Homo sapiens: one gene and its partners. The protein of the gene in region 1 interacts with the protein of each later gene in a biochemical or structural test. Each region holds a gene or a part of one and is shown in the gene's direction. Other genes may lie near its edges. The genes, in order: GALNT2, GOLPH3 and GOLPH3L.

What was found.
Region 2: the proteins of GALNT2 (region 1) and GOLPH3 form a complex in vitro, tested with the Homo sapiens proteins (one study listed by BioGRID).
Region 3: the proteins of GALNT2 (region 1) and GOLPH3L form a complex in vitro, tested with the Homo sapiens proteins (one study listed by BioGRID).

The regions. Positions count from the first base shown.
Region 1 is NC_000001.11:230,271,690-230,282,052, forward strand, and holds part of GALNT2 (polypeptide N-acetylgalactosaminyltransferase 2 precursor), read left to right. Parts: coding exon of another isoform or gene 1-157; exon of another isoform or gene 158-421; intron 422-2,755; coding exon 2,756-2,875; intron 2,876-7,613; coding exon 7,614-7,769; 3' UTR 7,770-10,363. Other genes in the region: uncharacterized protein LOC124904542, read right to left, coding at 1-157. UniProt on the Homo sapiens protein: Catalyzes the initial reaction in O-linked oligosaccharide biosynthesis, the transfer of an N-acetyl-D-galactosamine residue to a serine or threonine residue on the protein receptor.
Region 2 is NC_000005.10:32,160,957-32,171,319, reverse strand, and holds part of GOLPH3 (Golgi phosphoprotein 3), read left to right. Parts: intron 1-10,363. UniProt on the Homo sapiens protein: Phosphatidylinositol-4-phosphate-binding protein that links Golgi membranes to the cytoskeleton and may participate in the tensile force required for vesicle budding from the Golgi.
Region 3 is NC_000001.11:150,691,992-150,702,262, reverse strand, and holds the start of GOLPH3L (Golgi phosphoprotein 3-like), read left to right. Parts: upstream 1-5,108; 5' UTR 5,109-5,271; exon of another isoform or gene 5,272-6,503; coding exon of another isoform or gene 6,504-6,533; intron 6,534-7,412; coding exon of another isoform or gene 7,413-7,424; coding exon 7,425-7,607; intron 7,608-10,271. Other genes in the region: HORMAD1 (HORMA domain-containing protein 1), read left to right, coding at 2,080-2,151, 3,529-3,609. UniProt on the Homo sapiens protein: Phosphatidylinositol-4-phosphate-binding protein that may antagonize the action of GOLPH3 which is required for the process of vesicle budding at the Golgi and anterograde transport to the plasma membrane.

The DNA.
Region 1 (10,363 bases):
AAACCCAGGAGCAGCTGGACGGGAGAGATGCATAGCACGCGGTGTGGAGGTGGGGTGTTGGAGCTTCCACGCCCTCTCCAGGTGTGCCGCTCTCCCAGCGCCTCCGCATGTCCGGCAGCCACATCCCGGAGTGCAAGGACTTTGACGGAGGCCTCATCACATGGGCATGATCTCCAGCTCCTCTTCCCTTCCCAGAGGATGGGGTGGCGGGGGACTGACGGTTTCAAGCTTCTCAGCATAACCTGGTCTTTCTGGTGACCAGCCCCGTCCAGGAGCCCATTAGAGTTGCTTCATTAGAACAAGACACTCCCATCACCCAATAAATTCCAAGGGAGTAGGAGCTGTTTGTTGGGAACCGGGGTCAAAGACCAAACACTAGAATGAAAGATGCTCCTAAAACCCCTGTGGCTCAGGAAATGACAAGGGTTTTAGGAGCCTTGTGATTGTGCCAGAGACCAAATAATTATTTTTATGATGTCACACTGTCCTAGAGTATGGGTGACGTGAGTGCCTGTGGGTGCTTGGAAGAGCTGGCTGGAACTCACCCATGTTGAATGACAGCATCATAGAATGTTGGGATTCGACTCAGGGTCGGGTGGCCTTCCCCAGAGAAGGTGGCCGGCAGGGCTGGGTGGGTCAGGGCTGCCTCCATGCCGTGTTTGGAATGCTACAGTGCACAGGCCAAGCAGGTGCTTCTACTCTAGGACTCTTCAGAGCCTTTAATAGACTGAATTTCCGAGAGATAAACACAGCACAAAGTCTGTTTCCCAAATTCATTTGACCTAGAATCCGTCTTTCCTAGGATTCCTCACAGAGTAGAATGTGAGGAACACTAATTAAAAGGTGAGAAAATGGAAGACCCGGGAAGTGAGCAGGCTTGCCCAAGCCTCCCTCCCTGTTAGGGGAGGAGGAAGTCTTCAGACAGGTGAAGGTGTCTTCACTGATTCCTAGACGGGTGTCCGTGCCTCTGCATCCCCTCTGCTGATGCTGAGAGCTGGAGATGGTGCATCCCGCCAGTGGTTGTATAAGGTCTGAATGCTAGAATCTTTAGGGTTTGGTTTGGTTTGGTTTGGTTCGGTTCGGTTCAGTTCGGTTTGGAGACAGGGTCTCGGTCTGTCACCCAGGCTAGAATGCAGTGGCACAATCACAGTTCACTGCAGCCTCGGCCTCCCAGGTTGAAGCAATCCTTCCACCTCAGCCTCCCAAGTAGCTGGGACCACAGGCATGCACTGCCACACCCGGTCAACTTATTTTTTATTTTTAGTACAAACAAGGTCTCGCTATGTTGCCTAGGCTGATCTTGAACTCCTGGCATTAAGCAGTTCTCCCGCCTTGGCCCCCAAAGTGCTGGGATTATAGATAGGCCTGAGCCACCACACCGGGCTGCATCTTCACCTTTTAATGTTTTTCTAATGACGGACTATTTGTTCCAACATGATACAGATACTAGACAGTGAGGCTTCTTTAAACACTATTTGTTCCTTTCCTTACCTCTGTTTCCAAGAACCAAGAAAAAAACAGTGTCTTCATAGCACATAATAGTGCCTGAAGTTGCAGAATACATTTATTTGTGTGTCTTTCATGTTCCCCACTAGAAAGGGAGCCTGGCTCTGTGACAGCGCCGGTGTCATACAGGTGTGCAGCAGGTGGTCATGGGACAGACCGATAGAAAGACAGACAGACAGACGGAGGGGAGGGCCACTGCAGCGTGCTGGGGCTTAGAGAGGAAGGGGATGGAAGTGGATAGTGAGTCCCTGTGGGGTTTTAAACTGGAAAGGGCCTTGCTGCCCCTCGATATTAAGGGGTGTTCATCCCTTTGAGTGGGACAAATGGAGAGTGATGGTCAGAAGCCTCACCTTCCAGTCCCTGCTGTGGCCCTGCCTGGAACAGGCTCCGGCCTCCTCTGCCACCTGGGACCATGTCTCATTTAGTATCCAAAATGGTTGTCCTCTCACCCTGTCACAGCCTTTAACTTGTGTGTGTTTGTACATATATGTGTGTGTTTGTTTGTTAACATCATGGTGTGTTATTTAAACACTCTCTAGCTCAGTTTTCTCATCTATAAAATGAGAATAATAATAGCCCTCATGGAGCTGTTGTATAAAGGGCTTAAAATAATGCTTGGCACATAGCACCCCATTAAATTTAGCTGTAATGTATTCAAAGAAATTCATAGATCTATTCCTCCAGTTTTCAGAGGGCTTCATGAGCACCCATAGATCAATTAGCATTCACTTAGGAGGCTATACACGATATATTTTGCTTACATATGCAATGTGTTATTTACTACAGTTCACATTCATCAATGCTGTTTGCAGGCCATACCTGCATGAGGGCAGAGTCATTCCAAAATAGCATGGGTGGACCAGTTGCCAACTGTCTACCTGGTGTATAACCAAGCTTGTGCCACAGTTTTTACAGCTCACATTGAATTATAGAAAAATGAACAAGGCAGTCTAACTTGTATTTGGGGCTAAAATAGTTAATAGTTTTATTTTAGTTACTGAGGTCCTCAAAGCACTTCTGCACATCACTCAGCCAACTTACTGCTCAGTTGTGAGGTTCTCCCACATCTCTGATGTTATAAATTTGCCCTTAGGCAAAAAGTAATTGTTTCGTTCTCAGTTGGCTCAGGGGTTCTGAATCTAAGCTCCACCCCGTGACCCATTTCCTTTTTGAGCCCTCATCGATGCCCCTTCTTTCCTTTCACAGCCCGGTGCATAGCACGCCTCTGACTTCTGGTTTTGTGTTCCAGGAATGGGCCTTGACGAAGGAGAAGTCGGTGAAGCACATGGATTTGTGCCTTACTGTGGTGGACCGGGCACCGGGCTCTCTTATAAAGCTGCAGGGCTGCCGAGAAAATGACAGCAGACAGGTACGGCTTGCAGGCACCCGTGGGTGCCCGTGATTAACCCAGACCAGGGTAGCCACGGCCTGCGCCCTCTTGCTCTGTGCTGCCTCTCAAAGCATCCATCTCTGCGTGTACTTATGTGTTCTTTTGCATCACTGTGAATAATGTCTAGCTGCCCTATTAGACTTAAGCCACAAACCTAATGTTGCTTATTTCTGATTATATTCTCATTCTCTTCCCTATGCCGCTGAAAATTTAAAGAGAAATTATCTACTTTTGTTTATTCATCAAATACTTTTTTCTATTTCAATTTACAAAAATTCTAAATGATTAATGTTCACATGGATGGTACTCGATACATAATGCAAGTGTGTGTGTCTATGTGTGTATATATGTGAGCATATATATACACACATATATACACACCACATATATATACATGCTACATATATACATATATACATGCCACATATATACATATATACACGCCACATATATACACATATATACATGCCACATATATACGTATATATATACACACCACATATATATACATGTATACACACCACATATATATACATATATATACACACCACATATACATATATACACACCACATATACATATACCTGCCACATATATACATATATAAACACCACATATATATACATATGCATGCCACATATATGCATATGTAAACACCGCATATATACATATATACACACCACATGTATACGTATATATAGATGCCACATTTATACATATATAAACGCCACATATATATACACACCACATATGTATACATATATATACATGCCACATATACATCTATAAACACCACATGTATACACGCCACATATATACATATGTAAACACCACATATATACACACCACATATATATACACGCCACATATATACATATATACAAACACCACATATATATACATATACACACACACACCACAGATACATACATATATATACATGCCACATAGATATACATATATAAACGCCACATATATATACATATAAACACACCATATATATACATATAGATACATGCTACATTTATATAAACACCACATATATATACGCCACATAGATATACAAGCACAACATATATACATGCCACATGTATACATATGTAAACACCACATATATATACACACCACATATACACACCACATATATATATACAAACACCACATATATATACATATATACATACACCACAGATATATACATATATATACATGCCACATATATATACAAATATACATGCCACATATATACATGTATATACATGCCACATAGATATACATATATAAATGCCACAGATATATACATATATAAACACCACATATATACATAGACACCACAGATACATACATATATACATGCCACATATATATACGTATATATACATGCCACATATATATACGTATATATACATGCCACATATATATACGTATATATACATGCCACATATATATACGTATATACATGCCACATATATATACGTATATATACATGCCACATATATATACATATATAAACACATATATACATATATAGACACCACAGATATATACATATATATACACACCACATATATATACATATATACACACACACACATATACACACAGTTTCTTTAAACATTTCAGAATAGACTTTCTACCTGCCTTGTAAGCCGGTTTTCTCTGACGTATTCCCTTGTGGCAGCTTGTGGACACACCCTTTCTCAAGGCATGGGGTAACAGTTAGTGTCAGGAATAGAAATGCAAGCACAAAAGGTCCTCCCTGTATGCCCATACTTGGAGTGCCTGCCCCTGTTCTTACAGTCGGTCCTTAGAGATAGATGGGATGTAGGGAAACTGAGGCACAGAACCTACTGGAGCCAAGAGCCTAAGCCAGCTTCTAGTCTAACCCTGATTTCACAACAGAAAAGTCTCAGAAAGTCATTGCCTCCACCCTGGAGTCATCTGGGAAGACCAAGGCCAGGACCGAGTCCCCGGTTCTGACCCCAGTTGTCAGGGAGACGCCTGCAGAGGGCCCTCTTTCACCTGTCTGTCTCCAAACCCCTGCGCCAGCTCTGGGTGCTCCTCCTTCCCTGCTCTGCAGAGTCCCAGCCTGTCCTGGCAGTGGGAGCCCCTCTCTAGGGTTCTGCTCACAATCCGCATCTCTAAATGTCCATCTGTGTTGATGACTTGATACCAAAATGTGTAAGGGAGTGCCTGTTAAACAAGAGAAGGCTAGCACCGCTTGGACCCAAACCACCTAGAAATTGCCTCACTCATTGGCCCCTCGAGAGGAAGCTCCTCGAGGGCAAGGCTGGCATCTGCTGAGCCAAGTACTGGGTGAGTCTCAAACACATTCCCCTGGGATGTAACGGAGCAGAGATGTCTTTGGATGTAATGGATTGATAAAGTGATGACTTTAGTTGACACCTTTTTAAAAAACAAATATTACTTCAATATTGCTTAATTTCAAGAATTGACAGGTGTTTCTGCTTCAGTCCCAGTTTTGGGGAACCATAACTGACACGGCTTAGGACCTTTGTGAAGCATGAAAAGACCTATAAATAATAAGTTTTTCTGGATGTATGGCATGTATAAATGGGGATCTGTTAGGTTTTAAACCCCAAGACTCAGGCTATTAGAGAGGATGTGGGGGCTGTTTCAGTAGAGTCTGACTGCCTTGAAAATCTGCGCTCCCCACCCCCAACCACAATCCCATCAGACAGACAGATCAGAGCCCACAAGGCCACCTGTGCGAGACGGAGCTGGGGTTTTGTTGTTGTTTTTCTAAGGTTCTTGATTTAGCTGATGCTTTGACACATGACAGGCAGTCCCTCCAGTGGCCAGAATCAGATTCCGTTCATTCCGAATTCTTTGTTGAGAAGATTCCTGGCTGCTCAGAGTAACAGGGCAGCCTCAATACATACACACTTTACATGACAATGGGGAAAAACAGCATGAGGGGTGATTGACAGCAACGAGGGAGCTGGAAATGAAAGAGGCAATGACAGGCACTTAGCAAAAGCCTCCCCGGCTCCTCTGATTGCACTGTCTTTCCCTGCTGGCAAGAACTCCAGGTGAGCAGGTGGACGGAAATAAGGAAAGCAGGGTACAAGTGACAACATCCTTGTGGTGTTTCGCGCAGGTCGGGTCCCCAGCACTGGGCTCCTCTGCCTGCACCGGCTCCTCCCTGCCTCACTCACTGGCCCCTCAAGAGGAAGCTCCTTAGCAAATTTTATCTTGGAACTGAACTGGCTTTGCCAGTTGGAACATTTGGTTTCCAGGCACGTCCATGTTTTCATATGTTGTGCATATTTGCAGAGTCAAAGGGGAAAGGGAGGCAGGAGTGAGAAAATTTAATTCTGCAATGTCAAAAGGATTTGCAAAAAATACTTAGGTGAAGGAGCTTTCGTGCACACAGTATAAAAAATTAATTAGAACCACAGACTTCATTATTTGAAACGAGCTTTGGGGAAGAAAAAAATGTTACTTTTTTTTTTTAAGAACAAACATTAGAGATTTTTAAAGGGGGATTTTTCTGTTTTTCTTTCTTTTTTTTTTTTTTTTTAAGAGACAGGATCTCACTCTGTTGCTTAAGACTGGAGTGCAGGGGTGGGTATGACCATAGCTCACTGCAGCCTCGAACTCCTGTGCCCAAGCGATCCTCCCACCTCAGCCTGCAAGGAGCTAGGACAACAGGCATGCACCACCATGCCCTGCTAATTTTTTTTAAAAAAAATGTTTGTAGAGATGGGTTCTTGCTATGTTGCCCAGGCTGGTCTTGAACTCCTGGCCTCAAGCGATCTTCCTGCCTCGGCCTCCCAAAGTGCTGGGATTAGTGTCGTGAGCCGCCTGCACTCAGGCTGAAAGGGGTATTTATGTTACTTGCTAAACAGGGCTCCTCAGATTTCCTTCAGGCTGGGTTGTGCACTTTGATTCTGGCTTAGTTGGTGGGTAACGGGTATGTGGGTTGAGTTTGGTTGTTCGCTTGATTTGAGTGTTAGTAAAGAGGCATCGTACCCTGTACTTTACAAGCGGCATGTTCAGAACTCAGCAAACATTGGTCCCTGCCATACAGAGCACCAGGGGGCTCAAGGGTAGCAGAGACAAGTTTCTCATATCCACCAAGGAGCTTGCACACCAGTAGAGAACAGACTACATAGAAATAGGCTTCTCAATGCTATGTTCTGTTCAAACAACCATCTCTCTTCCTGACATTTGGCCTGACACCGTTCCTCTGGCTCCCCCGAGCAGAAAGCCCTAAGTGGGAGCATGGAGGTGCCCAGACCAAGGCCTCCAGGCAGGGCTGCTTTCCAACAGCCAGGGGAGGATCTGGCCCTGCATTGTGTGGATCCCTTCTTGGGGTGAACCATCACTGGATCAAGCTTTCATACGAAGGCATGCAAATTCCCCTACATCAAATCCTGTGTTAATGACGAAGGGGTGGGTGCCCAGAGCTCTGGGGCTCAGAGGAGGGGACACCCACAGAAAGTTTGGGGCAGGAGACGTTCTGAGTTTTGATCCAAGGCAGAGAATATGTTTCCTTCCTGGGTCCCAGCAGCACCTGTGGCTGGTTTCCTGTGGGGCTGCTGCAAGCTCCTCGGCCGTTCAGATGAGAGGCTGGGAAAAACGTGTCTATCTGTGAGTTTTTAATGCAGCCACAAGGTCCTGAATTCACACGAATCTGTTTGTACTCCTTTGCTTGTGCCCACACTCTAAGGCACTCTCCTGTGTCTTGCAGAAATGGGAACAGATCGAGGGCAACTCCAAGCTGAGGCACGTGGGCAGCAACCTGTGCCTGGACAGTCGCACGGCCAAGAGCGGGGGCCTAAGCGTGGAGGTGTGTGGCCCGGCCCTTTCGCAGCAGTGGAAGTTCACGCTCAACCTGCAGCAGTAGGAGGGTCCGGGAGGCCCTGCCGTCCTGTCTCCTGCACCATTGGGTGGAGTCTGGTGATCACATTATTGATTATGTTTCTTAAACTTTCCGCGAAACTAATATACCTCAGTATTCCATCATGGTCTGAAAGTCAAACTTCGGCAAGGCACGGACGACTGTGCAGACACAGCAGCGGCAAGAAGCGAGAACTGCCCTCCCCCTCCTCTCGGTGCAGCCCAGCCGGGCCCCCTTCCCCAGGCCGGAGCGCCCCTCTTCCTTCCAGCTTTCACTTCTGCCGGCTCCGCAACTGAGTGACACCCAGCGACAACCGACTGGGGAGTGGTAGAAGCAACTGAACGGATGCGTGCGAGCTGAGGACAGGGCGGGAGGAGGGGGCACACATGCCCCAGGGGAGCGAGGAGAACTCTTGAAATCTCCATTTTCAATCCCTTCGAAATCACGTATGGTTTCCACAAAGCCGAGTCGTGTCACGTGGCAGGTTTACGTCAATAGTCCCTCTCTCTGCTCCTCCATTCGCAAGTGTCTTCCTGGGCCAGACTCCCCTCCACCTCATGTACTTGCTATATTGAGGATGAAGTTTTCTATGGTGGGACACTAAATATAAAGCTATATAGAGAAAGAATGTACGGTCAGTTCCCTATGGTTTCTGTAGATCATCGTCATCTTGTATATTCCCCACAAAGCCGTTCGCAGCTTCCGGGAGAAGGGGCCAGAGCCCGGTGGGGCCAGTTTCTCACAGAGGGAGGAGGTGGCCTTTGTCCCCTGGAGCCCGATCAGCCAGTTGGTGCTACTGCTGTGGCCAGCTGGGGGGCTTCCTCCAGACCACCGGCCTCGGCCCCGGCATCCCTGTTGGGCGTCAGCCTGAGAGTCCCTACTGTGCGTCAGAATCCACCTTGCGTGCTGTGCGTATCTGTGAACCTGGAGCGGTTACTTATTTTGACAGATATCACTTTGGGTCTTTTTACATTAAATTTCTTTTCTCTAAGGAATATAAGACATACCCCATAGCTCTGTGTGAGCCAGCAATACCGCTGCCCCCTGGCGACAGGGCAGACCAATGATGCCAGGCAGCTGTCACACGCTAGTATTGGCTTCATTGTGATCTGAGCCCTGCACGCTGGGCCTTCAGAATTAATGGCCAGCAGTGTCAGGGATGAGCCCGTCAGCCAGGGCACAGGCCTGGCTCACAGTCCTGCACACCTGCTGGCCTGGGGAGCTCCAGCCAGGCAGCGAGTCCTGCCCCGCCCGCAGCTCCCTCCCACACCCCGCCTGGCCAAGATGACTGCTTCAGGGGGCTTTGGGGAAAGAATTAGGAAGGGTCAGAACCAAACAATACCTGCTCATTTACACTGAGGATTCAGGGCGGGAGACAGGAGCCTTGGGGTCCTGTTAAACCACAGACAGTTATGAACTGAAAGTCATAACGGGGAGAGGTGCCTGGCTTCTACCTGGGTGCTCAGGAATGTTCCTCGTCACCCCTGCCACTCTGTGGTCGGTGCCCTGCTTCCTCCTCCACTCCTGGCCGCCTTCTCCAGCGCCGCACACACAGATGCTCAGTCTCAGAGAGGCTGGCACGGCCTGGCAGTCTGAGAAAAGCGTCAGTTAGGCACACCTGCAGGCCCCTCGGTGGGACAGCGGCGGCCTTGGAGTTAGGAGCCACCCTGGGAGGTTGTGCCGGTGCCATGCTCCTCCCTGTGTCTTGTATGAAAGGGGCCACTGTGTGTCTTCCTCCCCGGCGGGAGCCCCACATGTGTGCACTGTAGGACAGCGGCCCCGAGGTGGAAGCCTGGCTGGAGGGCTGCCCTATAGGTCTTCTCTTCCCGCCTCCCCTGCCATGCAACCAGATGTGTTGTGAGTGGGCAGCGTGCCCCCACGCTGGAGTAACTCCGCACGCTTCTGTCTTTCACGGTGGGCGCTCGGGGGGAGCCTGAGGAAAACCCCCTTAGGTACCTGTGCGAGGCTGTGGAGTGCAGGCCAGAGCAGGGTGTGCGTAGCCCCCAGCACCCAGGTTCTTCTGTCAGACCCTGTGACCTGCGAGCTGCTACTACTGTAAGGAGGGAAATGGATGAATCTGGCTCGTTTTAAAATCACGTTTTCTGACGAATCCTTTGCCCCTTCACCTTTACCCCGCCCGCACCCCTAGGCCCTCTCAGCCTTCCTATCATCCCACGTGTCTACCCAGACCCTTGTGCGGCCCATGCCCTGGGGGCGGCGTCCTGTCCCTGAGCTGGGAGGCGGCTTTGGATGGTCCGGGCGTCAAGAGCAGGGGTGGGCCGGGGAGGGGTCCTTTGCGGTGAGCTATGTTTACATGACACAGTGTGCCAAAGTGACTTACTGCGGTTGCGTTAGTTTTTAATCATCAGGACTATCTCACCCTCCCACTCCTGTTTTTAAAACTCAGAATTCTTTCCTAAGAGCCCTTCGAGCAAAGCGTGCCGAAGTTAGTTGTCTTCTCTGTGCTGGTCCTTTCTTATGTCCTCATAAAAGCTCAGATGATGGTATCTGTGAGTATGTTTTGCAAATTCAAAATATAGTTTGGTAATTTTTTTTTCCAGTTGATTTTTAAAAAGAACTGCTGTACAGAGCTTGTACTT
Region 2 (10,363 bases), on another chromosome or scaffold:
TAAAACATTATGAAATTTTTTTTGCAATTTTTTTTTTTTAAAGCTCATCAGCTATTGCTAGTGTTAGTGTATTTTATATATGGCCCAAGACAGTTCTTCCAGTGTGGCCCAGGGAAGCCAAAAGGTTGGACACCCTTGCTCTAAATGTTTAAGGTGAAGCATATTAACATGCTGTTTTTCGGTGATTGGGTCTTAAGAAGATAATCTAAATAATTTGTTGAAGTTTAACCATACTCACATAATTTAAACAATTTAAAGTTATTTGGCGGGTAATTGAAACCATGTGTTCTGTTTATTTTGCATCAAGAGTCACTCATTATACTTTGCTAGTCATGGCTAAGGTCCAGATGCTTGCTAGCTTATTGTGAGCATTTCTTCCTGATTTCAGCAACCACATGGGGAAATTTTTTCTCTTTTTTTTTAGGCAAGTCCAGAGAGTTGAGGGGTGGGGTTGAGACTACTGGGATTTTGTATTGCTTTAGGTTTTGGTTTTAGGGATTAGCCTATATATTTTTTCCTTTCATCACATCTTTAAAATTTTTTTTTTTAAGAGATGGAGGTCTCAAGATGTTGCCCAGGCTGCACTCAAACTCCTGGGCTCAAGTGATCCGCCCTGAGTAGCTGGGAATACAAGGTGCATGCCATCAAGCCAACTCATCATGTCTTTACACTCTAATAACCAGCCCTGTCAACTTATCTGTTGGTATGTTTTTCCCTTGGGAGGCTCGCCACCATGTTTTTAACCTATAGTACTCTTTTTAGGAGGCAGGAATTGCTGTCTTACCCTGAGCCCAGGCGTTTATGCTAACTCATTGCTTTAACTGATTTTTACTTCAGCATTTATCTTTTTAATGTCTGGATTCTCCTAAGAACTTTAAAAGCTAAACTTTACATTTAAGCAAATCATTAATGTTGGAAATATTTTATATATGTGAGCTAATAACCTTATGTGAATATACTTGTTAAACCAGTACCTAGAGCAAGAAACAGAAGCCCTAGCCCTCCACTTGAGTATCTTTCCAGTCACTACCCATTCCTCAGGGGTAACCACTGGCTTAATATTAGAATTCAGCATAGATTAATTTTGCCTAGTTTTTTGTACTTTGTGTCTGCTTTTTGTTCAATGTGAGATTCATCCATATCGTGTGAGATTGTCCTTTGTTCTTATTGTCTTACCAATTTATTTTTAACATGTTTATAATCTATAATATTTAAAAAATTACTTTGACATATTCTGAGTCAAGTCTCCCTCTCTTTTTTGCTGAACAGAAGGTTCAGTTTTTGAATAAGCAGATGGTCTGGCTTCAGATTACCTGTTAGGAGTGAGTCTAAAGTCATTGTGATTGATTTTTTTTTTTTTCTTTACACATTTCAGATTTTTTTTTTTTAACCAATGATATTTGTTTTTTGCTTTTATAAAACAGGGATGGCTAGTCCCCTCAGAAGATTTTCATGCTCACTTGGGCAGAGAATCAGTGCATAAGTATTTAAGTAACTCTTTAAAGACCACAGTAAGGATGGCAGATAGTTTACACCTAAATTCAACTGCCAAGTAATTAGCAGTATTTCTTTAATTGACCCAGTGTTTGAGGGGGAGGGACAGCAAAAGTGCCAGGTATTTTCCTTTCCCTGTGTGTGTTTATTCTATAGATGCTTTCCATAGAATATTTTCAGGATGCTTTATTGAGAATTACCACAAATAACTGGTGTCATATATGTTTGAATGTCTTCATTGGTGGCAAATCTTAGTCTTTTAAGGTTAGATTTAATTATTTTCAGTGGCCAAGTATAATTTGGAGTATGCCTATGGAACAGCAGAAGCAGAGAGAGGCTCTATAGTCCTGTCCAAAGTGTATTCTTTGGCTTTTACATATAATTTAAGCCTTCTGAGCTTCAGTGTTTTCATGTATAATGGAAAAGTAGTCATTCCATATGATGGTTCTGATTGTACTGCTGTGGATGTTTATTAACTCCTCCCCAGGTCTTCGCTTTATTTTGTATTACTTTAGGGTTTCCCCATAGTGTGTTGCCTGTTTTTGAGACAGGGTCTTTCTTTGTCACCCAGGCTGGAGTGCAGTGGTGCGATCTTGGCTCACTGCAGCCTCAACCTCTTGGGCTAAAGTGATCCTCCTGCCTCAGCTTCCCGAGGAGCTAGGACCACAGGCACACACCACCATGCCCAGCTAATTAAAAAAAAATTTTTTTTTTATAAAGACAGGGATTTCACCACATGGCTCAGGCTGGTCTTGAACTCCTGGGATCAAGTGATCCTCCCGCTTCAGTCTCCCAAAGTGCAGGTATTAGAGGCATGAGCCACCGCACCTGTTTTTTTTTTTGTTGTTGTGTTTTTTGGTTTTTGTTTTAAGACAGATTGTGCTGTGTCGCCAGGCTAGAGTACAGTGGCGAGATCATAGCTCACTGCAGCCTCGAACTCCTGGCCTCAAGTGATCCTCCCGCCTCAGCCTCCCAAAGTGTTGGGATTACTGCGACCGGCTCTAGGATGCACTCTTGAAGCATATTATTCCCCTGCTGTTTTGTCATGCAGCCAGACTTGTCCAATCATATGTTTTCTTTCAGGGCTTTGGATCTTGAGAGAATAACGAGCTGTAGGGTTTTTTGGAGACCTTTCCAGAGTCATGTCAGCGTGTGGATCAGACTGTTCTTTGGCATGGTTCTTTGAGCTGCTTTCTCTGGTCTGTTGGCACTGTTTTTTTCCAGTCTGATTTTCCAGTCATCTTTCAGTGTTGTGAGTTTCAACAGCCTTCCAGTAAAGTTGCTTTTTAAAGATAGCCAGAGTCAGTTACTAATGTTTCTAATGCTTGTAGACAAGAACTGTAATACAGTAACTTAACTCTATGTCTTGAAAAATAAGTAGGTACTTGAGGTAAATAATATGTAATGGGGTAAAATACTTAAGATTAACCAAAATGATAGAACTGACTTTTGTGTGGCTTTTACACAGGCTCCAAAGATGTTTTCCATTTTTGGAATAAGGTTCCCAAGGTCACTACTTTGAAGTATAATAGTGATGAAGATGTATAACTTAACAAAAATTGTTTTCCTTTCTATACGTGTGGTGATGTCCACCATCTCTACATATCAAATCTGTAAATCAGAAATTCAGTCAACAAGTATTCAGAATTTCCAGATGTGCTGAGTTTTAGTAATTTAAAATATAATAAAGGCTTCTGAGTTTTTAATGAATTTTCGTTGTTTCTAAGACAAATGATATTTCCTTCATATTTTTTGAAGTTTTGAATTTTTATCTATTTTTTTCAGGTGTTTAAACACAGGTATGAGATATACAGGATCTCAGAAATTACTTTTGAAGTTCATTAAACTATTTGATTGTACTTTTTTTCTTTTGAGACAGGGCCTAGCTTTGTCTTCCAGACTGGAGTGTGGTGGTGTGATCATGGCTCATTGCAACCTCGACCTCCTGAACTCAAGCAATCCTCCCTCCTCAGTCTCCTGAATAGCTGGGACTATAGGCGCACCCTATCATGCCCAGCTAATTAAAAAAAAAAATTTTTTTTTGTAGAGACGTGGTCTCACTATGTTGCCTAGTCTCGAACTCCTGGCCTCAAGCAATCTTCCCGCCTTGGCCTCCCAAAGTTCTGGGATTACAGGTGTGAGCCACCACGCCTGGTCTGCTTATTATACCTTTTCAACAAGATTTTATACTGTTGAAATTACTTTTTAGTGCTTTGGGATTCTTTTACAATATGGTCAAAATATTCACTAACTCATCTCATAAGTTATACTAATATTTGATATTTGTTAATTTTGGACTACCTGAGAGTTCTTGTATGGAGCATTTGAATTACGTTTTAGAATTGTATTTTGAAGGCTGGGTGCGGTGGCTCACACCTGTAATCCCAGTACTTTGGGAAGCCGAGGTGGATGGATCACCTGAGGTCAGGAGTTCAAGACAAGCCTGGCCAACATGGTGAACCCCTGTCTCTATTAAAAATATAAAAATTAGCCAGACATGGTGGCGAGCACCTGTAATCCCAGCTACTCGGGAGGCTGAGGCAGGAGAATCACTTGAACCTGAGAGGCGGAGGTTGCAGTGAGCCAAGATTGCGCCACTGCACTCCAGCCTGGGCGACAAGAGTGGAACTCCATCTCAAAAGACAAAACAAAACAAAAGAATTGTATTTTGAAGTTATTTTGATAGATTTTGAAATATTTGGGGGATTTTTTTGATATTTAAAGAAATACACTTTTATAATATCATCTTACATGTAAATCTTAAATACCCTGGAGGCATCAGGCATTATGCTTGTTCTGGTACATAATGTTAAGCTTTTGGCTGTACACTTTTTTATGTCTTTGCAAACTCCCCCCCCCTTCTAACAGCATAACTTTTCTACTGCCATTAATCAGATTAAATAGTATAAAACTATGCTGTAGTCTTTGTTTAGAGGATTTATCTTCATGTTGTGAGTCTCCCTTTGAAGCAGCACAAAAAGACAGTGCTTGTCCTCCTCCTGCTTTTTTTTTTTTTTTAAGATGGAGTCTTGCTTTTATCACTCGGGCTGAAGTGCAATGGCACCGTCTTGGCCCACTGCAACTCCGCCTCCTGGGTTCAAGTGATTCTCCTGCCTCAGCCTCCCAAGTAGCTAGGATTACAGGCGCCTGCCACCATGCCCAGCTAATTTTTGTATTTTTAGTAGAGATGGGGTTTCACCATGTTGGCCAGGCTGGTCTCGAACTCTTGACCTCAAGTGATCCGCCCACCTCGCCTTCCCAAAGGTCTGGGCATGAGCCACTGTGCCCGGCCATGCTGCTGCTTTTTAGTAAGTGTCCTGACAAGTGCCAAAAGTGGAAACCTGGCTTCATTTTGAAATTGATGTTTTTGGCTTCAGGTTTCTCTTATCAAAGCTGGGAAGACTGCAACCTGTTTTAATAGCATTGTACAGTATTACAATGTAATCTAGTACATTTTGAGGTTTTTGACTTAGGTATTACAAATATATTTAGAACATAGGCTATTTCTCTTCCCGTTTGGTAAACCTCTCATCTGCAAAAACACAACTAATATTAAAGTACAGTGTATTGCCAACAAGGATGTTTCTGGTCACTTTTAAGAATAACATTTTAAACAACAACAAAAAAATTTACTTATTTTTAAACTTAATGCATTGTATTTGATTTACATATTCCTTTAATGGAGAAGTTCTTAAATTGGAGTGAACAGAGCTGAGAAACTTTGTGAATTCTCTGCAGTTGTGTGTTTTCTTGGGGAAAGAGGACAGAACTTTCATTAGATACTCAAAGCATTTAGTGAATCAGGAAGGTTAAAAATTACCAAACAGGAACTGTTTGTTTTAGCTTAAGGTTTTCGTCTTTTCTTTTTCCTTCCTGAAAATTAACTACAGAAAATTCCAGGTTTCCAGGGTTGTAGCGAGTTGAATTTTAAGTGATTTGAGATACGAAGTCCACATTTCTGTGGCCTGTCTAGAGGTTCTCATCTTGCTAAATGACATTTAGAAGCAGCATAACTGCTTCTAATCTAGGATTACCACACATCTAGGATTCTAACAGTTTTCATCCATTCATCAAATGTTTACTGAGCACATGCTCTGTGAGAGGCCCTTTACTAAGTACAAATTCACTGAAGAACATGTCTGTCTTCAAGTTCATTCATTTTAGTTCTGTGTGTCAAAGCTCATATAGTAAACTACAAAACTAAATTATGTTGCTGTTCTAGAATTTTTTTTTTTTCTCTTCTGAGACAGAGTCTTGCTCTGTTACCCAGGCTGGAGTGCAGTGGTGCAATCTATGCTCACTTCAACCTCTGCCTCCTGGGTTCAAGCGATTCTCCTGCCTCAACCTTCTGAGTAGCTGGGATTACAGGCACTCACCACCACACAGGGGTACTTTTTGTATTTTTAGTAGAGACAAGGTTTCGCCATGTTGGCCAGGCTGGTCTCAAACTCATGACCTCATGTGATCCACCCACGTTGGCCTCCCAAAGTGCTGGGATTACAGACATGAGCCACCCTGCCTGGCCTGTTCTATAATTTTTTGATGTCATATATTTCAGGCTGGCATTTGGCAGTCACTCAGTACAATGACATTACTCACATTAAGAATACATAATTTACCTAACCCTGGCAGGTGTGGTGGCTCATGCCTATAATCCCAGCACTTTGGGAGGCTGAGGCAAGGGGATTACCTGAGGCAGGGAGTTAGCGACCAGCCTGGCCAACATGGTGAAACTCCATCTCTACTAAAAATACAAAAATTAGCCAGGCAGGGTGGTATGCACCTGAAATCCCAGCTACTCGGGAGGCTGAGGCAGGAGAATCACATGAACCCAGGAGGTGGAGGTTACAGTGAGCTAAGATCATGCCACTGCACTCCAGCCTGGGCAACAGAGCAAGACTATCTCAAAAAAAAAAAAAAAAAAAGAATACATAATTTACCTTATTAAGTAAGCTAATATTATTTATTAAAGTAAATTTACTTATTAAATAAATTTACTTAATACATTTACTGTATTAATTAAGTAGATTACTGGCTTTATTAAGTAAATTATGTATTCCCAGTGTGGTAATGTCATTGCCAAGGGAGTGAAACTTGGTTCTGGGCGTGGTAGTGAAAGAATCGTACTCTTGGCCGGGCGCGGTAGCTCACCCCTGTAATCCCAACACTTTGGGAGTTGAGGCGGGTGGATCACGAGGTCAGGAGATGGAGACCATCCTGGCTAACATGGTGAAAGCCTGTCTGTACTAAAAAAATACAAAGAAATTAGCTTGGCGTGCTGGCGGGCTCCTGTAGTCCCAGCTACTCGGGAGGCTGAGGCAGGAGAATGGCGTGAACCCGGGAGGCGGAGCTTGCAGTGAGCCCATATCGCGCCACTGCACTCCAGCCTGGGCAACAGAGTGAGACTCCGTCTCAAAAAAAAAAAAAGAATCTTACTCCTCTTATGTATAAAAAGGCACACTTACAGTGTACAAACAAATATGTATATTCCATCATATTAAAATTTCATGGGGGAGAAGATAATGAGGAAAAAATCTGGAAGTACTTCTTAAGGGAACAGTGATGAAATAAAGGGTGAGAAACATTGAAATAAGTCACTATGGAAAATTATAAGCTTGTGCTTAGTTGAGGTTTAGAAATCTTTTTCTCTGATAGGAATTTTTATTGCAATAGAATTTGGCTTGTAGTTCAGTAGGAAGAGGAACAATTTTAGCATACTGAACTGCGTGTAGGAACTTATGAGTTAAAGTTTTAAGGTAAAAGTTATTTTTATTGATAATATATAGGCAAACTTTGTATTCCACCACTACCTTCTGGGACAGATTAGAAATTAAGAAACTGTATGTAAAAGTTGCTAATGGTTATTTTTACTCTGGTTTCATTTTCTAGTTCCAGTTTCTTAAATGGAAATGCTAAACAGTTTATACCGTATTAACAAAATAACCTCAGAAATAACACTTAAGAACTTAAATTTCAGTTCAGTCACTGAATGGAGTATACCATTTAATTTTTGTCTATACCATGTTGTGTAGCTAAAGTGAAATTAGAGGTTATTTAGTATTTATATGTTCCGTTTAATCCAAGTATTGAACAGCTTCTCTGTGCCATTCATTCCCTTTGCCAGATGCTGGGGTTACAAAGAAAAAAAATATATATATATATGTATATATTTTTGAGACCAAGTCATGCTCTGTCGCCAGACTGGAGTGCAGTGGCATGATCTTGGCTCATGCAACCTCCTCCTCCTGGGTTCAAGCAATCCTTGTGTCTCAGCCTCCCAAGTAGCTGGGATTACAGGCACATGCCACCATGCCCAGCTAATTTTTGTACTTTTAGTAAAGACGGGGTTTCACCATGTTGGCCAAGCTGGTCTTGAACTCCTGGCCTCCCAAAGTGCTGGGATCACAGATGTGAGCCGCTGTGCCCCCGGCCACAAAGAAAAATTTTTTGCTTTTAAGGAGCATTCAGTCTGCATAGAAGACAGATTTGCGAATGATTTCAATAAAGTGAATTATTAACTTTATCCTGCCTGCCTCTTCTGAGTTACTAACTTTTATGGGAGTATGTGTTAGGTGCAGTAAGGATGTACATAGGGAGGATGCTTTGGATCAGGACCTGCAAGACTGCTGTGTTCTTGACACCTAGCCTTGCCCTTGAGTAGTTGAAAGAATTAGAATAAATATTTTGAATTTTAGAACCTTAGTTTTCTCCTGGGCAAAATGGGCCTACTTTTTTATTTTTTATTTTTGAGACGGAGTCTCGCTCTGTCACCCAGGCTGGAGTGCAGTGGTGCAATCTTGGCTCACTGCAAGCTCTGCCTCCCGGGTTCACGCCATTCTCCTGCCTCAGCCTCCCGAGTAGCTGGGACTACAGGCGCCTGCCACCACACCCGGCTAATTTTTTGTATTTTTGGTAGAGACGGGGTTTCACTGTGTTAGCCAGTATAATCTTGATCTCCTGACCTCGTGATCCGCCCGCCTCTGCCTCCCAAAGTGCTGGGATTACAGGCGTGAGCCACCGCGCCCGGCCATGGGCCTACTTTTGTGTTCTGTCCGAAAGCCTCTAAGTTGTAGGGATCCAATGTGTTGGCATATGTGAGTGCTTTGAAAACCACATGGTGCTGAACAAATGCAAATGGGTAATTACCTAGCCTAGAGAAGTAAGTTAAAGTTTATAGTGGTCTTGACAAGTGACAAGTATTTAATATTTCCATTATTTTTACTATTTCTTGATTCTCTTGCACTTTATATGCTGGGCTTACTGAACGTTTTACTCAAATTCAGATGCTCATCTATGCGTGTATTTTTTTAAAAATTTTAATTTTTTTTTTTTTTGAGACGGAGTCTTGCTCTGTTGCCTAGGCTGGAGTGCAGTGGCCCAATCTCTGCTCACCGCAAGCTCCGCCTCCCGGGTTCATGCCATTCTCCTGCCTCAGCCTCCTGAGTAGCTGGGACTACAGGCGCCTGCCACCACGCCTGGCTAAATTTTTGTATTTTTAGTTGAGACGGGGTTTCATCGTGTTAGCCAGGATGGTCTCTATCTCCTGACCTCGTGATCCGCCCACCTTGGCCTCCCAAAGTGCTGGGATTACAGGCGTGAGCCACCACGCCTGGCCTTAAAAATTTTAATTTTTATGGGCACATAGTAGGTGTATTTATCTCTACCTTTGTTCTGAACCTCTGGTCAGTTTCCTTTTTGTAATTCCTGGCAAAACTGGTTTGGGAAATTTGGAAACTTGAAGTACCACTTGACTTCTGATTTTTATTTTTTTATTTTTTATTTATTTATTTTTCTTTTTTGAGACGGAGTCTCGCTCTGTCGCCCAGGCTGGAGTGCAGTTGTGCGATCTCGGCTCACTGCAAGCTCTGCCTCCCGGGTTCACGCCATTCTCCTGCCTCAGCCTCCCGAGTAGCTAGGACTACAGGCGCCCGTCACCATGCCCTGCTAATTTTTTGTATTTTTAGTAGAGGCGGGGTCTCACCGTGTTAGCCAGGATGGTTTTGATCTCCTGACCTCGTGGTCCGCCCGCCTCTGCCTCCCAAAGTGCTGGGATTACAGGCGTGAGCCACCGTGCCTGGCCCGACTTCTGATTTTTAGGTCAAGCCCAGAGTCTTCCTTAAAGAATCCTTGGGATTGGTTCCATGATTCCTCTTTTCCAGATACTGCTTAGCCTCCAGACGTATCAGTAGCCTCCAAGCCTCCAAAATGACTCCAGTCACAATTAAATAAAATAGCACATGTAAAGTGCCTGATAGTTGGTGCACAATAAATATTAAGTTTCATTACGCCTTGATGCTCCAAATCAGAAAACTCAAAAGGCCTTGACCTCTTCCAGCCCTTGTGGTCAGCAGTTCTCTCCACCTTTCCATATTCTCAGCTTTGGTTTTTTTTTTTTTTTTCCTCAGCTTTGGTTTTTTTTTTTTGAGACAAGGTATGCTCTGTCACCCAGGGTGGAGTCCAGTGGTGTGATCTCTGCTCACTGCAGCCTCAAACTTGCTGGGCTCAGGTGATCCTCCCACCTCAGCCTTCCAAGTAGCCGGGACTACAGGCGTGCGCCACTATACCTGGCTACTTTTTGTATTTTTTGTAGAGATGGGGTTTTGCTGTGTTGCCCAAGTTGGTCTCAAATTCCTGGGCTCAAGTGATCCTCCCTCCTCGTCCTCCCAAAGTGCTGGGATTACAGATGTGAACCACCGGGCCCAGCCTCACCTTATCTTTTTGATGCCACCCAATTTTTTTTTTTTTTTTTTTTTTTTTTTGAGACGGAGTCTCGCTCTGTCACCCAGGCTGGAGTGCAGTGGCGCGATCTCGGCTCACTGCAGGCTCCGCCTCCCAGGTTCACGCCATTCTCCTGCCTCAGCCTCCCGAG
Region 3 (10,271 bases), about 80 Mb from region 1:
ACTTTTAATAATCACCATTCTGACTGGCATGAGATGGTATCTCATTGTGGTTTTGATTTGCATTTCTCTAATGATCAGTGATGTTGAGTGTTTTTCATATGTTTGTTGGCCACATGAATGTCTTCTTTTGAGAAGTGTCTGTTCATGTCCTTTACCCACTTTTTAATGGGGTTGTTTATTTTTTCTTGTAAATTTGTTTAAGTTTCTTATAGATTCTGGATATTAGACCTTTGTCAGATGGATAGATTGCAGAAATTTTCTCCCATTCTGTAGGTTCTCTGTTCACTCTGAAAAATATGGAATGCTTCATGAATTTGCATGTCATCCTTGTGCAAGGGACATGCTAATCTTCTCTATATCGTTCTAATTTTAGCATATGTGCTGCTGAAGTGAGCACCATGCTCAGTCTTATAAATTGAGTATCTTGTTAATAAGACATTACAAAATAATCTTTTGTATATATCTTGTATAAAATGAATCTCATATTCTTAAGGGAAAAAAATCACTGCTTTATTTTAGCTTTTGGTATGAATTATACTAAATCAAAATTCATATTTGATTTTAGACCTTTAAGTTACTCTCAAAGGTTCATTGGGGTGAAGAAAAAGCATTCTGTAAAATATATAAAATATCTAAAGTTTAGGAAATAAATAGCTCACTCTGTTAGTGGTGTGCTAGAACATTTATTCCCAACTCCCCACTCAGAGATATCATGTTGGTAGCTTAAATTGGACATGTTGGTAGTATTCACAGCACAGAAATCAGCAAATGCCTCAAGGTTTGTTTCTCTCCTAGAGCTGGTTATTAAACATTTATTGGAACACTACTCATTATAGTGCCATTTTTAAGTGTCTTCCCCCACCCCTATTCTCAATGGGAAGTTAGAACTGGCAGAAGGCAGCATTCAAATGAGTATCTCATGAAAGCAAGAGATAAAGGAATGTCAAGATTTACTACTTCTAGAAGCAAAATGTTCATCCTAGCCAGTTTATATGTAGGATGAATAACCTTTACTAGGATATAGGGATAGAGACCAGCATTTTAAAAATTATTAAGCAAGATCTCCTTGTAATGTAACATTAAGATGATTTAGGGACATAAATTTATTTCTGAAATTGCACATGTTTTTGGATATGAACTCTGAGCAAGTGTACTCCTGATTTTGAGAATTATTACTGAATTGTGGTTAGAAAAGGGCAAGAAATGAAAATATTCATTATTATATATACTAAGGAAGTTATCATTGGAAAGCTCATTTCAAGCATCAGAAAAGAAGTATATCCTTTTAGAGAATAGTTGTATGACACCTAATCATTAGTCATTTTCCAATATTCATTTTAATAACTATATATACAGCATTATTCACAATAGCCGAAAGATGGGAAAAACCTAAATATACATCAACAGATGAATGGATTAAAAAATGTGGTATATTCATACAATTGAATATCAGCCATAAAAAAAATGAAGTGCCAATACATGCTACAACTTAGATGAACCTTGAAAACATGCTAATTAAAGGAAGTTACTCACAAAAGTCCACATATTGTATTATTCCTTTCATTTGAAAGTCAGAACTGGGAAAGTTATTGAGACAGTCTTAAGGCTGGTGGGAGGATGGCAGAATAAGAGAGTGATAGCTAAGGTATATGGGGTTTGTTTGTGGGGTGATGAAAGTGATGTAAAATTGATTGTAGTGATGGTTGTACAACTCTGTGAAGGTACTGAAAATCATTGAATTGTACACTTATAAATGGGTGAATCATATAGTATCTAAATTATATCTCAATAAAGCTGTTTTTTAAAAAAATTGTATATCCAGCTGGGCACTGTAGCTCATTCCTGTAATCCCAGCACTTTGGCAGGCTGAGGCAGGAGGATCCCTTGAGGCCAGAAGTTTCAGGCTGCAGTGAGCCATGATGGTGCCACTGCATTCCAGCCTGGGTGACAGAGGGAGACCCTGTCCCTAAAAAGTAAATAAATAAATAAATATTGCATATCGTTGCATAAGATTGAAAAATCAAGTGTTGGCTGTTCTTTGAGAAATAACCAATTAGTAATTATTCTATCTTTGTGGAGGCAAATGGAAATCAACCAGTAAAATCTTCCAAAGAAAATCGGAAGAGAAGTCAACATGAATCTGGGAGAATAGTAAGTCTTATGATAATGTATAGTTTGAATACAATGGGAAGGATCAGAATATCATTACTACAGATTAAATTTAAAATGATGAATTTGATATCTTTCGATGTACCTGAGAGTTCTGATATTCAAATTTTGTTTAAATATATTTTGTTCTAAAAATCGAGGTGATTTTGAAATAAGATGCCCTATGTTGGTTTATTAGTTTTTTCCATGTAAACATCTCCTGTCTCATTCCATGAATGATTTAAAGTAATTGGAGGAATTTATAATATATAAATTAAAAATCAGCTGGGTGCAGTGGCTCATGCCTGTAATCCCAGCACTTTGGGAGACTGAGGCAGGTGGATCACGAGGTCAAGAGATCGAGACCCTCCTGGCCAACATGGTGAAACCCTGTCTCTACCAAAAATACAAAAAAAAAAAAAAATAGCTGGGCGTGGTGGCGCACGCCTGTAGTCCCAGCTACTCGGGAGGGTGAGGCAGGAGAATCGCTTGAACCTGGGAGGTGGAGGTTGCAGTGAGCCAAGATCGCGCCACTGTACTACAGCCTGGCGACAGACCAAGACTCCGTCTTTAAAAAAAAAAAAAATCAGTGCCAGGAAAAATATAAGAGAATATAGAATGAGAAAGTGACAGTACAAGAATACTAAGGCCATTTTGTTTATATAGAACTGAAATTGGGCCACAAATTTGATCTGAGCTTTCTAGAGATCAAAACTGAAGTAGAAGGAGGATAATTTACTAAATACATGTGTTCCCTAAAAATATAGGGTCTCCTCCTAGTACCTCTGGAGAAAAAAATATTTTCCTGACTTAAACCCTATAGTTGTTTCATATTTAGAACCTTATTTTACCAAATCAGATAATGTATTTGCCATTTCTGAGATAATTATTCATATTTTTCCAACTAGATATTTTAGTATTATTAGTAGGTTAGAATTAAACAACTGAAAACCTAAGACTATTTTTAAAACTCAAATGTTAACGTCTCAAGAGTACAAAAGCAAGACATGATTTAAATCGTACATGATTCCAAGGTAGAATGTTTTTCTATTTGTAGTTCATTTTAAAATCTTTTTTCCCTTCTTATTGCTCTGAAATATTTGGCTATTTTGAGGACATAATGTTAAATCTATCTTCTCACTTCTAGAGCAGCCCTACTGAAGATTATACATTTTGCAAGTACATACTTTCAGCAGCCATTGGAAGATGTTAATAATAAATTTTACTCTACTTTTAAGAAACCCAGATATAGTTATGCTAGGTATGCTAGGCATAAATTTTTTTAAAAAGAAGAGAAATCTCAGATACATGAAAAAATCTACAATTAAAGACATTTAAACAGGAAAGTATCTATTCTTAGTAGTTGTTTTCTTTTGACAGGTCCTCCATCACTTTGATTCTTCTAGTCAAGAGTCAGTGCCAAAAAGGAGAAAGTTTAGTGAACCAAAGGAACATATATAAAAATTATTTTTGTTCTGCAGGCTTGCAGAGTTCTTCTCACCATTTAAACTGAAGGACCCTATATTATATTTCCCTAACTCTGAAGATGTATATGTAGTTTAAAGCAGTTTGTACACTAAAACTAAGTTTTTGGCTGACTGTCATATTGTGGTCCTTAATCTTGAGATAAATCCAATAGAACTTTTGAATAAAAGCAAAAGTACAAATGTCATAATTGATTCGGTAATAAGTAAAATTTCAAAATTGATTTTGTTCATTACCTACTTAATATTTCCTTTAAATATATACTAACTGTTAAGGCCCTCTAATGCCATTTTTCTAAACAGTAATGTTTACTTTGGTATTAAAATTTGGTATGGATTCACTTTTTACTTATGTTAAAATTATACCATTTAACTGGCTCTTTTGTCATTGTGCTGTTATTAAAACAATGTTCTTCAATATTTTGACATAATGTATTAACATTTTAATATATAATGTACAATTTAAGAATTGGTGCTTTACCTTTACTATGCTTTTTTTTACAGGACAAAAAGACTGATTTTTAAAGTATGGCATTTTTTGCAGCATAAATAAAATATTGTTCAGTACGTAGGCCCTTTTATCGCTTCTAATTTTTATTTAAGTAGCAGGAAATATGGCTTCATTCATTTGAAAGGCTGGTAGGAGGATGGGGGGATAGGGAATACTAATTTTTAGATGATTTCGGTAGCTATTACTTTGCAAGAAGAGTTGAGCACACTTTCTAGAATTTTTGAGTGGTAGTATGAAAAATGCTGTGCTTTTAATGAGAAACCTGGGAGCTAGTTCCAGCCTTGCCTGCTTTCTTTGCTTTAGAAAAAGGAAGACTTAAAACTTGGTCTGTTTGCCGCTTGTAGTTTCAGCAGCCATATTCCAAAAACATACACATCCATGGGTTTGTCAGTAATAAGCGCTATAGGGAATGCTGGTACATATGCGATGGTAGAAATGTATTCATCCTGTTTAAGGTAAACCATATAAACGTACACAAACTGACCCAGATCATGTTTTTCTGGAACAGTCAAGTCAAGGATAAACTGACTGTCAGAAACAACCAATGTAAAAATATTTATTTATTTTTAGCTGTATTGCTTGGATCCCAACACATCTCACTTAATTGTCCCAGTATACGCTACTACAGCAACACACCTGCTACGCTGAAATTAACCCACAGAAACCTTTCGAGATTGGCAGCCCATGTTAGCTCACTCAGCGCTTTGATTGGCTGGTTTAATGGGGGTGGGGAGCGCAGCCCTCTTTCCTCTCTTCCACCAAGGTTCCTTCATTGGATTGACCAGCTGTCAGGTTGAACGCAAACCTGCCTCCTTTTGGTGGTGTTTGTCTGGATCGCAACAGAATAGCTGGGGGAGAGCCTCCCCCTGTGAGCTCCGATTGGCGGGACTCAACCTTGGTGATTTCTGATTGGCGCAATGAAGAAACACCAAGGTAGGTTGCCTAGTGATCCTGAGGAAGCTGATGTGTTATTCCTTCTCTGCATCGAAGGATCAGGAAGTTTGTGCTCTCTGCGTGGCTAAGTTTTTCACCTACTAGGACGGGGGTGGGGTGGGGAGAACAGGTGTCCTTCTAAAATACAGCACAAGCTACAGCCTGCGTCCAGCCATAACCCAGGAGTAACATCAGGTAAGCAACGAGAAAATTACATTTCCTAACGTCCCTTCCCCCCACCAAAAAAAACCTCTATTTTTTAAAATTATTATTTTATGGGAGGGAAAGGTTTGTATTCATTTGGGCCATTTGTTTTCTTTCAAGTAGGATTTTTAACTAGTAAATGTGCAGATGAAACTAATTTCTCAAAGAAACCGCCCCCTCTCCCCCTCCCCCCCTGCCCCGCGAAGGTTTAAAGTTTCTTGGATTGGTTTAGGAAATAGTCCCTATTCACAGTGCCAGATAGGCTTAGTGCGCTTAAGAATTTATTTCATGGTTCTCTTCCTCCTTCACTTTTCTTCCCACCTCCCATAACAAATTATATTTGAAATATACCCTTGTACAAAAAAACTTTTGTAGCTCACTTCATTTGTATTTCTATTTTAAATGTTCACATGCACTTCTGAGTATTCATTTTAATCAATATAAATTTATCGAGCAATAACAATGTTAAAGACAGTGCTAGTTGCTATGGAGAATATATAAACCCAAGAAGACAATATCCCTGTTCTTAAGAAGTTTACAGTTGAGAGACAGCTATACCAAGAGAAAGACTATAATAAATACTTTAAAGGAAGTGAGTATAAATAAAGCTCTGTGAAACAGCTGAGGGAGTGGCCATGAGACACATAGGTAATAGAAAAGAGGAGGTCACTTAAAGGCCTTCACAAGGCCTTTAAAGAATGGGTAGAATGTAAAGAGGAAGAGAAAAGGGTGAAGACCCCAGCAAGTACAGAGGAGCAGAAGCAGAAAGAAAGCATGAGACATTTTTGAGAAAAAGTCTGGCAACACTACTTATTAGGAGCAATGGGAAATATTGCTAGAGGAGTAGAAACGAGTCCAGTCATAGCAACTCTTAAATACCATTATTTTGATCTTGAAAAAGATACTCCTTTATATAATTGCTGATTTAAAATATTTGTTATATATTATCTTAAAAACTGATATCTAGATTTATATAAAATAAAGTATGCTAACTATAAACTTTATCACAAATGATTTAGTGCAGTTTCTTTTGACCGTAGTACATAGAATAAAAGACATGTTCTTTGACTTTTTTTTTTAAATTGAGAAAATTTGTTAATCTTTCAACACTCTCTTGCCAGTAATTTTTGTTTGCAGCTCCTTGTGTATTTGCAAGATATGGCTAGCTAGGACTAGAGCTGCTAAGTTTACTGACTGTGGAATTACTACACATGATTTTCTGAATGTTATCGTCTAGACTTGTGATCTCCAAAGTGAGTACATGAAATGAGTCATTAGGGTATGGGAAGGAAATATAGAACATGTATTTCTATTTAGTTTTTCGTATTCTTTTTTACTTTCTATTTTTTGTGTTTTTTTATAATGTAGTACCATGGAACGTTTATAGAAATTAGATACAAATTATTATATGCATTTTGGGGCTGGATGCTCACAATTTTTTGTTGTTCCATCTTACTTAACTTGGGATCCATTTTGTGAAAGAGGAGTGACAATGGTGGATATTCACTCCTTCTTTATAGATTATGCAGAAAAAATCAGCAGGTTTGGCCGGGCCTGGTGGCTCATGCCTGTAATCCTAGCACTTTGGGAGGCCCAGGCAGGCAGATCACTTGAGGTCAGGAGTTCAAGACCAGCCTGGCCAACATGGTGAAACCCCATCTCTACTAAAAATACAAAAATTAGCCAGACATGGTGGCGCACACCTGTAATCCCAACTACTCAGGAGGCTGAGGCACAAGAATCACTTGAACCTGGGAAGCGGAGGTTGCAGTGAGCCAACATCGCACCACTGCACTCCCAGCCTGGGCAACAGAGCAAGACTCCCTCTCAAGAAAAGAAGAAGAAAAAGAAAAAAAGAAGTCAACAGGCTTGAAAGATGAGCATTTCTACTGGACTTTAGAATTACTCATTTGATCTTTTGTCAGTGCCATCTGTGAAGTCCAAGCTATTGTACTTTGGAAAAGATACTGTATTACCCACCCATTTTTTTCTGGTCATTACTCCTTCCTTTCTTTCTATATTTAAATCTGTAAATATTTCCTATTTGTATGGATGTTTAGTATGCATGTATGAATATATGATTTATTTACATAAGCATACATATGGATTTTTTTTTTCACCACTCCCTCCAGAAACAGGTGAGAATGACCACTTTAACTCACCGGGCCCGTCGCACTGAAATAAGCAAGAACTCTGAAAAGAAGATGGAAAGTGAGGAAGACAGTAATTGGGAGAAAAGTCCAGACAATGAAGATTCTGGAGACTCTAAGGATATCCGCCTTACTCTTATGGAAGAAGTATTGCTTCTGGGACTAAAAGATAAAGAGGTAATGCAGTTAGGTTTGCTAGGCTATCTCAAAGACTATTAAATATTGGAATGTTTTAGGAAGTAACCTAATGGAATATATTTAATAATAAATTGGTCTTAGAATTGTGCTCTAACCATCTGGAAGATGGAGGAGTTGGGACAGTGACCGATACTTGGAGGGTAAAAATCCAGAAGTAGAATTACGTGAAGTGTATTTAATTACAAAATTACTCCAAAATTTTAGAAGATACAGGAGAGGAGGATATAGTATAAAGTTTTGTACTTGTAGTTTCCCAAGTTAGATTAAAGGCGAAATAATACCGTTTATTAAAGTAAGAACAAGGGCCCACACACTGAAGTCTTCTTCAGCTTTGAGGAGAAATAGTCTTTTACATGAAAAGACAAGGAACATGTGTGATTAGTTGCCTTACAGAAATAAACAATTGGTAGGTTTCTTATAGCAGAAATAATTTTTTATTTTCCTCTGTGCATCTTTATAAGGCAAATATCAACAGTTGGATTACGCGGTGGCTCACGCCTGTAATCCCAGCACTTTGGGGAGCCGAGGTGAGTGAATCACTTGAGGCCAGGAGTTCAAGACTAGCCTGGCCAACATGGTGAAACCCCGTCTCTACTAAAAATAAAAAATTAGCCATGTGTGGCGGCGGGTGCCTGTAATCCCAGGTACTCGGGAGGCTGAGGCAGGAGAATCACTTGAACCTGGGAGGCGGAGGTTGCAATGAGCCAAGATTGCACCACTGCACTCCAGCCTGGATGACAGAGTGAGACCCTGCCTCAAAAAAAAAAAAAAAAAAAAAAAAAAAAAATATATATATATATATATATATATATATACACACACACACACACACACACATACATAAACAATTGAGGATTATTTTAATTTTTGAAAATTTTTAAAAATAATTTTAGCTTTTCTCTTTTTTCCCTAAATGTCTCCTTATTTAATGGAACATTTATTTTATAGTACAGTTAGTCTTAAGGTCCTGAGTCTTGTGATATAACCAGAAATTTCCCTGGCTTCTCTACTAGTATACATCATCATCCTTCATTTGTAACTTTTTGCTGTGTTTTCTCATCACACTATTCCCTCATGAAGAAGTTACGAAGGTAACATTTTAAACAATCTGCTTTCTTTCCAGGAAAGCCTTAAATAACCGCCCCCCCTCGCCCACCGCCTGCAAGAAAAGAAAGAGGTATATTTATTACTGGCCTCAGTTTTGAAAACATACAAAATTAGAATGTTATTTTAGATTTTAAAAGTACTAAATTTGGCTTTGATAATTATCCTTAGCTAGAAGTGAATTGGCTGCATACAAGTAGTAACAGCTCTTCTTTTCTACATAATTCTTCGACTTGGAAATACCATTGTTGTTTAGATTTTGCCTTTCATTTATTTACTATTTTCCTTTTTACTTTTTTTCTTGTTAAATTACCAACTTGAACAAAATTTACAGACCAGTTATAGTCTGTGTATTGTTAAAACTAATATTAGAGACATGCTTATGTGTACCTGGCCAAGATGTAGGTATATCAGAAATTCTTGCCCGGAAATATATTTTCCTGTTTGCTGAGAAGTTGATGAGCCTTCAGTTTTATAAAAGGCAAATAAACGAAAAGGCAAAACCAGCTCTCCAAGAGAATGTCAGAATAGGACTGAAGATTAGGTGATATAAATACTCTTTTGAGACGTTTACACATTACCTAGGAAACAGTCACTGACTGTATAAAAAGAGGATATAGAACTAAAAGCTATTTGGTTTGTTTTAGCTTTGAATAGGAATGATTAATTTCCTGCTGACCTTATGCACTGGAATTTTTGCTTTTGGGCTTGTCTTCATGTGTTTATAATGGTTAATATAAATTTTAGGAAATAGAATAAAAAATAAAGCAGCTCATTAAGAGCTATGGCCATGGTGAGTACTTAACATATTGGTGAGATACTGTACAAAATAAGCAGATGGCTGGATGCAATGGCTAATTCCTGTAATCCTAACACTTGGGAGGCCAAGGTAAGAGGATTGCTTGGGCCCAGGAGTTCAAGACCAGCCTGGGCAACATGGTGAGACACCATCTCTACAAAAAATTTAAAACAAAAAAATTAGCTGGACATGGTGGCACATGCCTGTAGTCCTAGCTACTCAGGAGGCTGAGTCAAGAGGATGGCTTAAGCCTCGGAGGTCGAGGCTTCAGTGAACCAGGATTGTGTCACTGCACTCCAGCCTGAACAACAGAGCAAGGCCTCAAAAAATAATAAATAATAGCACATAACAATTAACCACCTTTTGAATTGCTCTAATTTTATTTTTGAGGATAGTTAACAAATATTTAGCTTTCATTTGGCTCAGGAAGAATAAAAGACAATAAATCCTTAGGTGTAAATGAATAGAAGAGGTCAAACTTTGTGATTTATTTAAATAGTAGTAGTTACAAAAGGCCAGTTACATAACTATCTCTAAAAATATTAAATTGATTCCCAACTGTACTTATTTTTTTCTTATCTCTCAAACTATCAATAGATTCATTTAATCAATATTTAATGTGATTGAGGACACCCATTATGTGCTTAGGATTATGCTAAATATTAATACTAAGGTAAATATAAAATAGTATAGTATATGGTCCCTGCCTTCAAGAAACTTGCATTCTAGCTGGAGAGACA